Linked DNA regions of Homo sapiens. The gene in region 2 interacts genetically with the main gene of each other region. Each region holds a gene or a part of one and is shown on either strand. Other genes may lie near its edges.

Region 1 (3,977 bases), on a different chromosome or scaffold from region 2:
GGAGCTAGGAGACCACGAGCGTGCGCGCCGTCGCCGGCGAGCCCACTGGCCCCGTGACTGCTCCTCTCCTGAGTCCGACTGAGAGGACCCATCTCTTGAGTGCCACTTGGGCCGCGGGGGGCTCCGGCTTCGCATCCCTGAGCGCTGCCACCGCTCTTCCTCTGAATCTGACCTGCGGAGAGGACCATGGATGCCTGCTCAGTGCCTGCAGCTGTCATCTGCTCCACAGATGCTTACTGGGTGCCCGTGGGGGAGCAGGCACTGTTCTAGGTTCTGGGGACACAGCAGTGACCCAAATACCGATGGCTTCTGCCTTCCTGGGCTCACCCTCTGGTGGGCCCCAACAAGGAAGACATCAACAAATAAACACACCACGCAACACTAGGCAGAGGCAGAAGCCACAAAGAGTAGCAATGCCGAGCACAGGGGCTGGGGCTGCAGGGCCGAGGTCAGAGAGGGGCTCTCTCAGGAGCTGACACTGAGCCAAGGTCTGGAGGGAGTGGGGAGGCAGCGATGGGTGGATTCGGAGGGAGAGTGCTCGAGGCAGAGCAAGAGCGAGGGCCTAGAGGCAGGCACTGACCTGCCACATTCTAAGAACAACAAGGAGGCTGTATGGCTGAGACAGAGTGTGGGGGAGAGGGAGGAGGCGCGGGCAGGGAGGTGGCTGGGGCTGGTGGCGCAGGAATTATAAGGGTACGAACCAGGGGACCCGAACACATTTAGGCTGTCAAGGGAGGGCTTCCTAGATGGAAGTGGTATTTGAACTAGTCCCACAGGATGGACAGGAGTTAACAGAGTAGAGCGCAGGGAATGGAAGATGCACAACCTCAGGGGTGGTTCAGGGGCCTTTAATTTTATTTATTAGAGACAAGGTCTACTAGACACAGAGTCTACTAGAGACAAGGTCTATATTTTTATTTATTAGAGACAGAGTCTCCCTCTGTCACACAGGCTGGAGTGCATGATCAGAGCTCACTGCAGCCTTGACCTCCTGGGCTCAAGCCATCCTCTCGCCTCAGCCTCCTGAGTAGCGGGGACTACAGGCACACACCACCACGCCCAGGTAACTCTTTACATTTTTTTGTACAGAGGGGTCTTGCTATGTTGCCCAGGCTGGTCTTGAACTCCTGGGCTCAGGCAAGCCTCCTGTCTCAGCCTCCCAAAGTGTTGGGATTACAGATGTGAGCCACTGCGCTCAGTCACGTTTAGGGGTCTTTGTACACAGAGAACTGCCAAATATTTTGTTAAATGCTCTACCCATTAAGCTCATGTCAAAAAAATCTAAACTATGTTGAAACCAATCATTGCAGAGCCCTTAAATATTGGCCACAAGTTCAACTGAATTTTCGTGAACATTAATTCTAATTACATATCTAGAGTGGCAAATTATTGTGAATAATTCCAATACCAGAAAATGGTAGGCGAAAAAACACAAAGATGACATTAACAAGACTTATGGGCAGGCGCGGTGGCTCACGCCTGTAATCCCAGCACTTTGGGAGGCCGAGGCGGGCAGATCACTTGAGGCCAGGAGTTCAAGACCTGCCTGGCCAATATGGAGAAATCCCAGCTCTACGAAAAAATTCAAAAATTAGCTGGGTGTGGCAACAAGCACCTGTAACCCCAGCTACCGGGGAGGCTGAGGCTGAAGAATCGCTTGAACCCAGGAGGCAGAGGTAACAGCCGAGATCGTGCCACTGCACCCCAGCCTGGGCGACAGAGCAAGACTCCGTCTCAAAAACAAACAAACAAAAAAACCAACAACCGATGAGTGAACTTGGCCCAGAGCGGGGCAAGACTGGCCTGAGTGTCAGCCACGAAGGGGCTGAGCCAGCACTGGGGCCCCGGTCTGGGAATCAGTCCCTGTCCCCATTTTGGTTTCTCTGTACTGGAGCCGGCTCAAGGCAAATCCGACCAAGTGCCCCATCTCCAGAAGAAAAGGACCATGGGGAAGCTGAGATTCAGGCACTAGGAATCAGCTGTGAGTCCTGCCAGCTGACACCGAGTCTTTTTCCCTCCCACAGCCCACCTCCATTAGCAAATGTTGTCTCCTCTACTTCCAGAATCCCTCTGAAATCTACGCACTTTGCCCGCTGTGGTTGACTACAGCCTCCCTCCCATCGAGACTGCCATCATCTACTGTCTGGACAATTGTGCCGTCCTACTCTGATGCCGCTCCTGCCTACCCCGCTCCATCCCTTCTCCACCTCAAAGCCAGAAAGTATGCAGAGTTAAGTCAGTCCACGTCACTCCCCTACCCAAACTCCTCTCAAGACTCTCCATTTCCCTCCGACTAATAGCCAAGATCTAATGTGCTGAGCACACAGGGCTCGATATGATATGATCTGATCTCTCGTTACCTCCCCGCCGCCTCGCTCACCCGGCTCCGGGCTGTCCCTCCAACCGCCCGGTCCCCTGCCTGGAACGCCTCTCGCCTTCCTTCCGCTGCCAGGTTAATTCCAACCGGTGGTCAATTGTCCCCTTCTCTAGGAAGCCCTCCCCGAGTAAGTCGGGGGTTTCCCGGTTCCCCGGGATCTCCAACCCTCGGTCGGGCGCTCCTGAGGTAGGAGCCGGATCCCCAGCGCTGCTCCCGCAGCGACCCCACCTGCGCTCCCGGCTCCGCCGCCTCCGTCTGCGCCGTCCCTCGTCCTCCCGGCGCCGTCGGTTTCGCCGCCCATGGCTCCTGCTCCGACTTCGGCTCCCGCTCTGACTCTGCCGCCTTCGGCCCCGGCGACCCGCGGACCGCGAGCGCGAGCGTGTGTCCCGACCCATCGGCTGGGCCAGTGGCCGCGGCACCAACACCAATAGCCGAAGCCTGCGCTGGGGGCCTTCCTCGCCCACGGCGCTCTCCAGGCTGCCCCGTTTGCGCCTGAGCCGGGAAAGAGCAACCCATCCCGTCGCCCCAGCCCGCAAGGACTCCGACACCCCAGACTTTCCACTACGTCTGCAAATGTGGACCGCGTGATTGACTCCAGTGGGATTGTTGCCTCCAGGGTGGCGGAGTCTCCTTTCAGGCAGTGCTGGAGGCAGCCCTAGGCGGGTCCCCACGCCTCAGGGGGCCTGAGAAACTGTGGGCGGGGCAAGGGCAAACTAGGAACCTTGTGCAGGGAGGGGCCTGCCGAGGCGAGACCAATAAGAAGCGGGTCTAGGTCGGAAGTAGCGCTTCATTGGCGTGGCCAGGGGCGTGGCCGAGGAGAGGCGTGTCCGGGGAGCGAGGTCCCCGAAAGGCGAGGAACCGGGAAGGTGTTAGGTGCCAGGCAGCTCCAGAGGGCAGAGGGCGGGCGCGGGGACAGAAACTGAAAAGCCTTCTTATGAGAGTCATCGTTATGCTCCACCACCTGCCAATGAACACCTATGTATTTTGGGAGTTAAGCTTTAAAAAAAAACAAAAACTTTGATAACTCCCTGTATTCCCCCATCAACCCATTTTAGAGACGGGGAAACTGAGGCTCAGAGAGGGAAAGTCACTCTTAACACTTGCCTTCTCAACCCAGGCTGCCCAGCTTTGTGGTGTGGGTGCTGGGGACCCGTGGGAGGGTTGTGAGCAGGGTTTGGGGGACTTGCTGTTGAAACAAGTTTGGCGTGGGAGGACGGACTTCAGGGGCAAGGCTGGAGGCCAGAGACCTAGAAGACGCTGATGTCCCATCCTGAGCTCCCCTAGCCCATGGTGGCTGCTACCACCACCCCGTGCAGTTCTAACCACTCGGGGCTGGGAAGGCCTGTTTATGGAGGATGATAGTAATTTAAGCTAACTTTTAAAATATTTATCTTGGCCGGGCACGGTGGCTCACGCCTGTAACCCCAGCACTTTGAGAGGCCGAGGCGGGCGGATCACCTGAGGTCGGGAGTTCAAGACCAGCCTGGCCAATATGGTGAAACCCTATCTCTACTAAATAATACAAAAATTAGCCGGGTGTGGTGGCATGCACCTGTGATCCCAGCTACTTGGGAGGTTGAGGCAGGGAGAATTGCTTGAA
Region 2 (3,500 bases):
CCTCTCTGGGATGCTCACGTGTCTTACTCCTACCCATTCTAAAGAGCCACTAAAACCCACGGAAGGACATTGTACCTCTCACAGGATATCACAGGCTGTAATTCTAAACACATAGCATGAATGGTAGAATCTAAATCCACAGAAGTGTCAAAGATGCTACACCTTTATCACAGATTCAGCTTCCTGCTACTATTTCTTGGGTCTGTTCATTTCTTTTGCATTACTGTCAACTGTATATATAATTTGTTTTTTTTTCACTCACTTGTATAGTTGAGCTAATATCCTTTTTTCGGAAGCCTCTCTTACCATTTTCAATTCCTCTTAGAGTAGTTTCTGGAAAAAGCAGAATCTTACAAGTTTCAGAATCTTACAAGTTTGTCCTTTGATAGCTCAGTAGGTTCCTTTTTTGCATTCATTATTCTTCTTTACTCTCCCTTTTAGTATCTGTTCGTGTTTGTCTCTGTATCTTTATGTGATGCTGAAATCCTTTGGACTAGATTTCCCCTCATTACTTAAAATGTTTTATACCCATTATGCCATGAATTCATGGACAATTGATTAGAGCAGTTCAAACTTTTCACCACTGTGTCTCAAAGTGGGCTTTTCAAGGTAGAGTCGTCCAGCATATCAGTTCAACCCATTTAACTTTCTTTTTAGCCTCCTTCTTTTTCTATATACTTTATACAATTTGGGGCAAGATCTTGGCTCTTCAAAATACTTGATATTTTTTTAAAAGCATATTAATGTTCCCGGTAAAACTCTTGCCCTTATGAGGTTTGCTTATCTTACAACATTGCCCACAGCCTAAAACTAGAAGGGTCCACAGTGTCATTCCCTTCTAACAATGACACTGTAGGTTGTTCCAGTTAACCCTAGTTTTACCTGTGTGGACCACCACCAGTAATACCCTGGCTGCCTAGAACGTCACAATTTTTAAAAGATTCACATGAAGGTAGCTAAAGGAATATCCTCCCCTTAAAAGTAAAAAAAAAAAAGAAAAGAAAAGAAAAAGTCTTAGATAATATGTATAATAATAATTCTTATCCTCTTTCCTTCTGTGTTATTTTGACAAATTTCCAAAAGATCATGGTTCTAGTCAAAAGGCTAATGCAGATTTCAAACAGAAAGAGGTGCTATGGTGTCTCTTAATGCTAGAATTACTACTCTCATTGTGATCCTTAATCCATTACTTTTTTAGCTCCTTGAACATTGAAAGTAAAATTGATCCCCCTAACCCAAAATGAATGGTAATGCCCACCTTCATCTTCACTGCTATCAGATTCAGGAAGTTTGATTCTTCTCCTCTTTTTCCTCATGTTTTCAGTTTCCTTTGTCTCATCATCAGATAATGCTACTCGCTTCCCCCTGTTGCCATCCAGAAATAAATTAAGCGTGTTACACAGAACAAAAATGTAAGTATTCACATGCTCTTATGGGTTTTGCTTTATAACTCGTGGTCTTAATTCCAGAGGGTAGAAAAGGACGGCCAAATAGTCCAAGAAGGACTCTTGTTAAGGATACTCTGCTAACTGACCACAACTAAGTCACTTCATGAGGTGACTTGAATAAAAAAGTTCTAGAGTTCTCTAGAGACTGCTGGAAGCTACAACCAGGTTATCAAGAATCTTTCCAAATTCCTTCTTACTTCCCTGATTGGCCTTTCAATTATCCAACAAGCATTAAATAAGCAGCTACTACATACATACAAGGCTCTTTGCTAGCCATTGAGAATGCAACAATACAGAAGAAAATACTGTTTTCAAGAAGCTCTGGCAAACACCACTGGCTATAAGGCAATGTGGTAGATTTAACTGGACAAATAAAATGTTATGGAATATAATTCATATTTGGAAAACTTAAAAGCTAAGTAGAAGTTCATCATGTAGAAAGGGGAAACATATTTTAAAGAGAAAGAACAATATGAGCAAAGGCAGAGATATCCTTTTAAGGTGATTCTAATGACATAATAATAATAAAAAAAATCCTAGACTCCATCATGACATTATTTAGCTCCTCTGGATGAATGGATACTCCATCACACTCCTCATGCAACCAACAAGTAATTTATCAAAGGCCTACTGAATGTTAGAGAAACAAATATATACAAGACATAATCTTTGCCATCAAGTACCTTATGTCCTATATAACTTTAAATACCAACTTTCCTTTCTACCTTGAACTAGAAAAAGAACAATTAAACCCAAAGTAAAAGGAAACAATAAAGATAAGAGCAGAAATCAGTGAGATAAAAAATAAGAGAAAATTAACAAAGCCAAAGTTGTTATTTTTGGGAGATTAATTTTATTAATAAGCCTTTTATAAAACCCATTTTGAAAACAGAAAAATATAAATTATCAATCAGGAATGAAACAGTAAAGAAATCTGTATCGAGTACAGGTTCTACAAACTCGAAGAATAAAGTTATATAATGAACGGGTTTATGCCAATAAACTCAACAATTTAGATCAAATTTTGACTGAGTTTTAAAAACACAACTCAGTCAAAACTGATCCAAGAAGAACTAGAGAATTTGAACAGCTCTAGTTAAATCAAATTCACAATAAAAACCTTTCCCACAAATAAAATCCAGCCCTGGATTCACTGGTAAATTTTATTAAACATTTGAAAAATATACACGTATATATAAACTCCTTCAGAAAACAGAGGAAACTTCTCCCAACTGCGGTCATGGATCACTTAATGACAGGGACATATTTTGAGAAATGCATTGTTAGGTGACTTCACTGTGTGAACATCACAGAGTATACTCACACAAACCTAGATGGTATAGTCTATGCTCCTAGGCTACAAACCTGTACATCATTGTTACTGTACTCAATACTGTAGGCAACTGTAACACAACGGTATTTGTGTATTTAAACATCTAAAAAGAGAAAAGATACAGTAAAAATACTGTATAAAAAAGATTAAAAATGGTACACATGTATAGGGCACTTACCACGAATGGGGCTTTCAGTACTGAAAGTTGCTCTGGCTGAGTCAGTGAGTGAGCGGTGAGTGAAATGTGAAGGCCCTAGGATGTTACTGTACACTACTGTAGACTTTATCAACACTGGATACTCAGGCAACACTAAATTTATTTTAAAATGTTTTTCTTTCTTCAATAATAAACAGCTTACTTTAACTGTATTTTCAATTTTATAACTTTTTGGCTCTTTTGTAATAACACAGCTTAAAACACAAAAAATTGTACAGCTGTACAAAAATATTTTCTTCTTTATATCCCTATTCTATAGGCCTTTTTCTATTTTAAAAATTTTTTATTTACTTTTTAAACTTTTTTTGTTGAAAGCTAAGACCCAAACACACATTAGCCTCGGCCTACACAGGGTCAGGATCATCAATGATCATTGTCTTCCACCTCCACATTTTGTCCCACTGGAAGGTCTTCTTCAGGGGCAGTAACACACATGAAGCTGTCATCTCTTATGATAACAATGCCTTCTTTTGAAATATCTCCTAAGGGCTGCCTGAGGCTA
Region 3 (3,184 bases), on a different chromosome or scaffold from region 2:
AACTTTGAAATGGTGAAATTATCCTGAATTTTATCATGGTGAACCCAATCTAAGCAAGAATTCTTAGAAGCAGATAACCTTTCATGGTTGGGTCAGAGAGAGAGATATGACAATGGAAGAAAGTTCAGAGAGGATGAGAGAAGGGTTAGAAAGAGATGTACATGAAGGGACTGGACTTGACTGGCCATTGCTGGCTTTGCAGGTGGATAAAGGGGGTCAAAAGGCAAGTTCTATGACCTCAAGGAACTGAACCTAAATGGATTCTCTCTGACGGCCACCAGAAAGAAATACAACCCTGCTGATAATTTGAATTTAGCCCATTAAGACCTTTCTGACCTACAAAACTGTAAGATAATAAATTTGTAATGCTTAAGTCACTAAATTCATGTAATTTTAAAGGGCAACAATAGAAAACATATATATCACAAAATCAAGAAATCCTACTTGTGGGTATTTCATCTAGAGAAATGAATACTTATGTTCACACAAAAACCAATACGTGGATGTTGATAGCAGCTTTATTCATAATCACCAAAGCCTAGAAACAACCCAAATGACTTTCAGTGGGTGAATGGCTAAAGAAACTGTGGTATATCCATACAATGAACTATAACCCAGTAATAAAAACAAACTACTGATACACACAACGATCTGGATGAATCTCAAAGGCATTATGCTGGGTGAAAGAAGCCTGTCTCAGAATGTTACATAATACATGATTATTTATATGATATTCTCGAAAAGGCAAAACTACAGTTACGGAGAATAGAGCAGTAATTGCCAGGAGTTGGGGTGGGGAAGGGTGTGTTATAAAAGCATAGCAGGAGAGCACTTGAAATGATAAAACTGTTCTGTATCTTGATTACGGTTGTGGTCAAATAACTAGACATGTGTTAAAAATTCATAGAACTCTGCACTCCCCCAAAAGTCACTTTTTTCTGCATTAAAAAATAATAAACTTTAACTATAACAACTCAATGACAAAACAAGGCAAAACAATGAAACAAATCTCATTGCTGACACAGCTTTCTGGGAATTTCCAATCCTAGAGAATGAATGTATCACATACATGGTTGGGGAAGGAGACACAGTTACTTCTCTTTCCTTTGTGCCCTGGAAGCCCCTCAACATCTTTCTAGAAGTAGAAGGTGCTCCAGCAGGGGTTTTGGAAACTTATCTCAGTCTTTTCCTTTTCCAGTAAAAGGAGGAGCTGGCTTAGATAACCTCTACAGTCCTTCACAGCAGGTAACTAGAACTCAGCTCAGTCCTTGTGTAGGTGCAGGGTGACCTACCTGTCCTGGCTTGCCCAGAGCTGAGGGAGTTCCCAGGATTTGGGACCTTCAGTTTACAAATCAGGAGTTAGTTACTCTAACATGACTCAGGGAAGTCACATAACTCATCCGAGCCTTAGTTTTTTCTCATATGCAAATTAGAAATAATGCTTGCCCTATCTCACCAAGTTATTACGAGATGCAAACTTTAAACTGTAACTTCTATGTAAATGTGAGTTGGTGGGATTATTACTAACTTTTAGAAGAAATGACTTAGGGACAGTCTTCAAATTTGGAAAAATAAAAGTATTATTAAAGGAAGTTATGCAGTTGAAATATGTGTGTGTATCTGACTGCAGCATTGTTCAGTTTGCAGTTTCAGTTTTGAGGCTATAAGAATATATGCATCCAAGAAAGTAACTTTTGTTTTTCATAATCTGCTGAAGTTTTAGTTACCTGCATTCCAGGACAGGCTATGGCAGTGAACCTTGGCTACACATTGAAATCACCTAGAATCCTTAAAACACAGGTGCCAGGGTCCTATTCTCAGAGAGTCAGGGTTAATGGGTCTGGGGTTTGGCTAGGCTTTGTAAATTTTAAAATCTCTCCAGGTGTTTCTAATGTGCTACCAAGAGCCTCTTAATATACCAGACCTGGTCATCGCCCACATGGGCTTGCACCTTTAAGATGGTGCCACTTGGAAGTTTGTTCTTACTACTAACCCAGATGAGTCAAACCTTACCTACAGTTGAGTGAGCTCCCTCCACAAGAAAAAAGTCTTAGATATGCCTCTAAGTGAGAGGACTTCTGATCTCAATAGGGCAATAACTCACATCTACAAAGAATGACCAACAGTGGGACCAGTCACTCAGGGTAATGACACTATAATTATTGCTGTTTTTATTATCCAAAGGAGGACAGTTCTGGATTGGGGGATGTATTAGTTTGCTAAGACTGCCAAAATAAAGCACACTAACTGAGTGGCTTAAGCAACAGAAATGTATTGTCTCACAGTTTGGAGGCTAGAAGTCCAAGGTCAAGGTGTCAGCTGGGCACCGCTCCCTCTGAAGGCCCCAGGGGCGGGGGAGGGAGGGTTCCATTCTAGGCCTCTCTCCTAGCATCTCCTAGGTAGTTCCCTGGCTTATGGCAACAGTGCCAATTTTAGGACTTCAACATACAAATTTTGGGGGGACACAGTTCAACCCGTAACATGAGAGCAGTCAGTTTCCATGTACATGGCACCATGTATCTTATTCAGGTGTACTCTAAAATACCATGATGGGGTATGGTCAAAACGGACTGGAATCTGGCCTAGGCTTCAATGGGGAGGTATTCCCTGGTCAGCAAGGAAAAGCTACAGAAGGTTAATTCACAGATTATTCCTTATAGATAAATCAATAATCTTGGCTGATGTTAGATGTTTTAAAAACTCAGCCTTAAGCAAAATAAGAATTAAAGGAGTTAGTAAGTTCCCCCTCAATAAGAATATCTAAGCAAAATCTTGATGAGCTATTGGCCAGGGGTGCTTTGGAAGGATTCTTTCATTTGAAAGGTGGTTGGACTAGAGGAACTTACAAATTCACCTCAATTCTAGGATTTTGTGCTTCTTGCAAAGACTATTCAGAGGCACACCTGATGTTTTGTGGTAGAGTTCTGCACCAGGCACTATATCCAAAAGAAGGACACTTTAGACATGGCTCTAAGTCCAAAGAGTTAATGTGAAAATCCTAATGATGCATCAACTCTGCTAAAATCCATTGCTGGTTTTACTGCACAAAAGTTTTCAAGGCAGAAAAAAATAGGTCCAGGATCTTTGACAATGGCAAGATAAAGACGGTAAACTTAGATGTCCTGCAGGACTGCTCAACCAATGATACTGCTCTGAGATAAGTTGACATCCATAATCACAGAAT
Region 4 (3,500 bases), on a different chromosome or scaffold from region 2:
TCTGTTGACCAGCCCAGGTTGGAGTACAGATCAATCATGACTCGCTATAGCCTCAACTCCTTGGCCCAAGCAATCCTCCCACCTCAGCCTCCCAAGCAGCTGGGACCACAGGCATTCAATACCACATCTGGCTAATTTTTAAATTTGTGTAGAGCTGGTACCTCCCTATGTTGCCCACACTGGTCTCAAACTCCTGACTGGCCTCAAGCAATCCTCCTGCCTTGGCCTCCCAAAGTGCTGAGATTACAGGTGTGAACCACCACACCTAGCCTGAATTGTACACTTTAAAAGGGTGAATTTTACAGTATATGAATTATATCTCAAACAGCCGTTATAAACAACACTCCACACAATTACTATACGCATTCTGTTTCTACCATTTTAACACCAAAAAAACTACAGACAAAAATCTCAGGATAAAATACTGTCCTTCAAATTTAATAAATATGACTTCATGAAAAAATTCATTACATTGACTTTATTTTCACATTTCATCATAGACCAGGTGAGAACTTTGTCAAACACCACAGAGCCAATGGAACTGGACATTTAAAAGGGATGTTAGTTACTTTTCCTACTCAACTAAGTATCAAGCAGTTCAGATGAAGCAATATGCATCTGAAATCAATACTTGGAGGCATTAAAATGCAAGAACCAAAAGAAAACAACAGATAAAATATTAAATGTATTTGCAATTCAAATTAACCTTTTTTTTTTTTTTTTTTTTTTTGAGACAGAGTCTTGCTCTGTCGCCCAGGCTGGAGTGCAGTGGCACGATCTCAGCTCACTGCAACCGCCACCTCCTGGATTCAAGCAACTCTTCTGCCTCAGCTTCCCAAGTAGCTGGGACTACAGGCACGCGCCACCATGCCCAGCTAATTTTTGTATTTTTAGTAGAGATGGGGTTTCACCATATTGGCCAGGCTGGTCTCAAACTCCTGACCTCATGATCTGCCCACCTGGGCCTCCCAAAGTGCTGGGATACCAGGCATGAGCCACTGCGCCCGACCAAATAAACTTACTTTTTGAAGACGAAACAAAACACTCTACCTGCCCCAAACCAACTCTGCTCCAAGGATCCTCTTTGAGACCCAGTAGTATGAACAAAATGGCATCTAGCACTTGAATTCCAATTCTGTCTGGTACTAAACTGGTGAACTTGAGCAGGTGGCTTAACTAAATCTCTTTCCTTATCAGTATACTGAGGAAATAATAATAATACCCACCCTCACAAGATATTAGGGAAGTGTAAATGAGATCATGTAAAGCAATGCTACTCAAACCTTGGTCTTCAGACCACTGCCAATCCACAAACTATTAGCAGTCTGCATCAAGGTAAGTACAGAAAGAAAGCATTAGCACTTAGAACATCTTAGGGCAATTTGACAGGCAGTTTACAGTTTTGTTTTGAGACAGGGTCTCCCTCTGTCACCCAGGCTGGAATGCAGTGGCGTGATCTTGGCTCACTGTAACCTCTGCCTCCCGGGTTCAAACTATTATCGTGCCTCAGCCTCCCAAGTAGCTGGGATTACAGGCCTGTGCCACCATGCCAGGCTAATTTTTTTGTGTTTTGTAGTTGAGATGGGGTTTCGCCATGTTGCCTAGGCTGCTGAACTCCTGGCCTCAAGTGATCCACCCACCTCGGCCTCCCAAAGTGCTGGGATTACGGGCATGAGCCACTGCACCCAGCCAATGTTTGTTGAATCTAATGATGATAATAATAAAAAGCCTGTATTCTCTATGTCTTTTTAAATGTTATTTTTCTAGTAATTTTATTTTACAGAAGTGCTTTTAGAACACTACTGATCTGCAACAGCTTGAGGGAAAAATCTACCTGGTCCTTTACCAAGACAGTTTGAGAAGCAGTGATATTAAGCACTCTACCCAGTGCTGAGCACAAAGTAAGAATCCCTGGCTGGACATGGTGGCTCACGCCTGTAATACTAATACTTTGGGAGGTTGAGGTGGGAGGATCACTTGAGTCCAGGAGTTTGAGACCAGCCTGGGCAACATAGCGAAGCCCAGTCTCCACAAAAAATAAAACACAAAAATCAGCCGGGCATGCTGATGTACACCTTTAGTCCCAGCTACCCAGGAGGCTAAGGCAGGAGGATCACTTGAGCCCAGGAGGTTGAAGTTGCAACGAGCTGAAATTGTGCCACTGCACTCCAGCCTGGGTAACAGAGTGAGACCCTGTCTCAAAAGACAAATAAACAAAACAAACAGAACCCCTCCCCCGCCCCAAATATTAATTTCCTCTCCATCTGTCAGACTCTATAGTCAGTTACTAAATGCTTAGGGAGAACCTTCCTGGCAAAAGATAGCGTGCAGGTGCAATGGTAGCGCTAAAGAAATTTAAGAAATGTAGATGCAGAGGCCAGGCGCGGTGGCTCACGCCTGTAATCCCAGCACTTTGGGAAGCCAAGGCGGGTGGATCACAAAGTCAGGAGTTCATGACTAGTCTGGCCAACATGATGAAACCCCGTCTCTACTAAAACTAACAAAAAATTAGTCAGGTGTGGTGGCGGGTGCCTGTAATCCCAGCTCCTCGGGAGGCTGAGGCAGGAGAATCACTTGAACCAGGGAGGTGGAGGTTACAGTGAGTTGAGATCGTGCCACTGCACTCCAGCCTGGGCGACAGAGTGAGACTCCGTCTCAAAAAAAAAAAAAAAAAAAGAAATGTAGTTGCAGAAATAAAATCCACAAATATAGAACAAACAATGTAAAAGATAAGGCAGTACAAGCTCTAAATACGTGATACTGAAAAAAACTAAAAAACTAGTACTCTTTTCAGGTTAAAGTGGTCAAGGAGGTTTTGTCTGAGGAAGCATGATTAGAACTGGGCCTTTGAAAGCTGCATAGGATTAAGGCAGCTGGGAATAGGATGGGCATTTAAGCAGAGAACTGCCAGTGCAAAACCAAAGAGGGAGCCATTATGAATAGATGAGTCCAACAGGAAAGCAATGGAAAAGCAGCTGGAACCAGCTTTATGGGAAAAACCTCATCTTTGTCCATCAGTTCAAAGATTTAGAACCTAAGCCAGGGAGCCACTGAAGATTTCTGAGCTAGAAAACAAAATGATCAAACCAGGGTCACACATATCCTACTACTGTATCACTATATACATCAGTTTGGCCATTTTCCCGTGTGGCCTCTATCTCTTTTCCTTTCAGTGCACTCACCCTGCAAAAGACCATACATAACCTCAGATCAATGCAACCATCTGCTTCCTAGACTTCAATTCAAATCTAGGCCCAGATGTGCTGGAGAAAACCAAACGACCCTCTATAGTGATATAAGATAGATGATGTTGCGGGAAGTCAGGGACCCCGAATGGAGAGACCGGCTGAAGCCACAGCAGAAGAACATAAATTGTGAAGATTTCATGGACATTTATTAGTTCCCCAAATTAATACTTTCATAATTTATTACGCCTGTCTTTACTGCAATCTGTGAACATAAATTATGAAGATTTCATGGACATTTATCACTTCCCCAAT

What was found. A genetic interaction does not mean that the proteins touch.
Region 1: changes in POLD3 (region 2) and CACTIN together harm fitness more than expected from each alone (negative genetic interaction), as found in Homo sapiens cells (one large-scale study listed by BioGRID).
Region 3: changes in POLD3 (region 2) and STXBP4 together harm fitness less than expected from each alone (positive genetic interaction), as found in Homo sapiens cells (one large-scale study listed by BioGRID).
Region 4: changes in POLD3 (region 2) and TIMELESS together harm fitness more than expected from each alone (negative genetic interaction), as found in Homo sapiens cells (one large-scale study listed by BioGRID).

What each region holds. Positions count from the first base shown.
Region 1 is NC_000019.10:3,623,991-3,627,967, forward strand, and holds the start of CACTIN (splicing factor Cactin), read right to left. Parts: upstream 2,801-3,977; 5' UTR 2,773-2,800; coding exon 2,606-2,772; intron 173-2,605; coding exon 1-172. UniProt on the Homo sapiens protein: Plays a role in pre-mRNA splicing by facilitating excision of a subset of introns. Required for the splicing of CDCA5/Sororin, a regulator of sister chromatid cohesion. Involved in the regulation of innate immune response.
Region 2 is NC_000011.10:74,627,082-74,630,581, reverse strand, and holds part of POLD3 (DNA polymerase delta subunit 3), read right to left. Parts: intron 1,368-3,500; coding exon of another isoform or gene 1,366-1,367; coding exon 1,259-1,365; intron 1-1,258. UniProt on the Homo sapiens protein: Accessory component of both the DNA polymerase delta complex and the DNA polymerase zeta complex.
Region 3 is NC_000017.11:55,170,949-55,174,132, reverse strand, and holds the end of STXBP4 (syntaxin-binding protein 4), read right to left. Parts: 3' UTR 501-3,184; downstream 1-500. UniProt on the Homo sapiens protein: Plays a role in the translocation of transport vesicles from the cytoplasm to the plasma membrane. Inhibits the translocation of SLC2A4 from intracellular vesicles to the plasma membrane by STX4A binding and preventing the interaction between STX4A and VAMP2.
Region 4 is NC_000012.12:56,439,427-56,442,926, forward strand, and holds part of TIMELESS (protein timeless homolog), read right to left. Parts: intron 1-3,500. UniProt on the Homo sapiens protein: Plays an important role in the control of DNA replication, maintenance of replication fork stability, maintenance of genome stability throughout normal DNA replication, DNA repair and in the regulation of the circadian clock.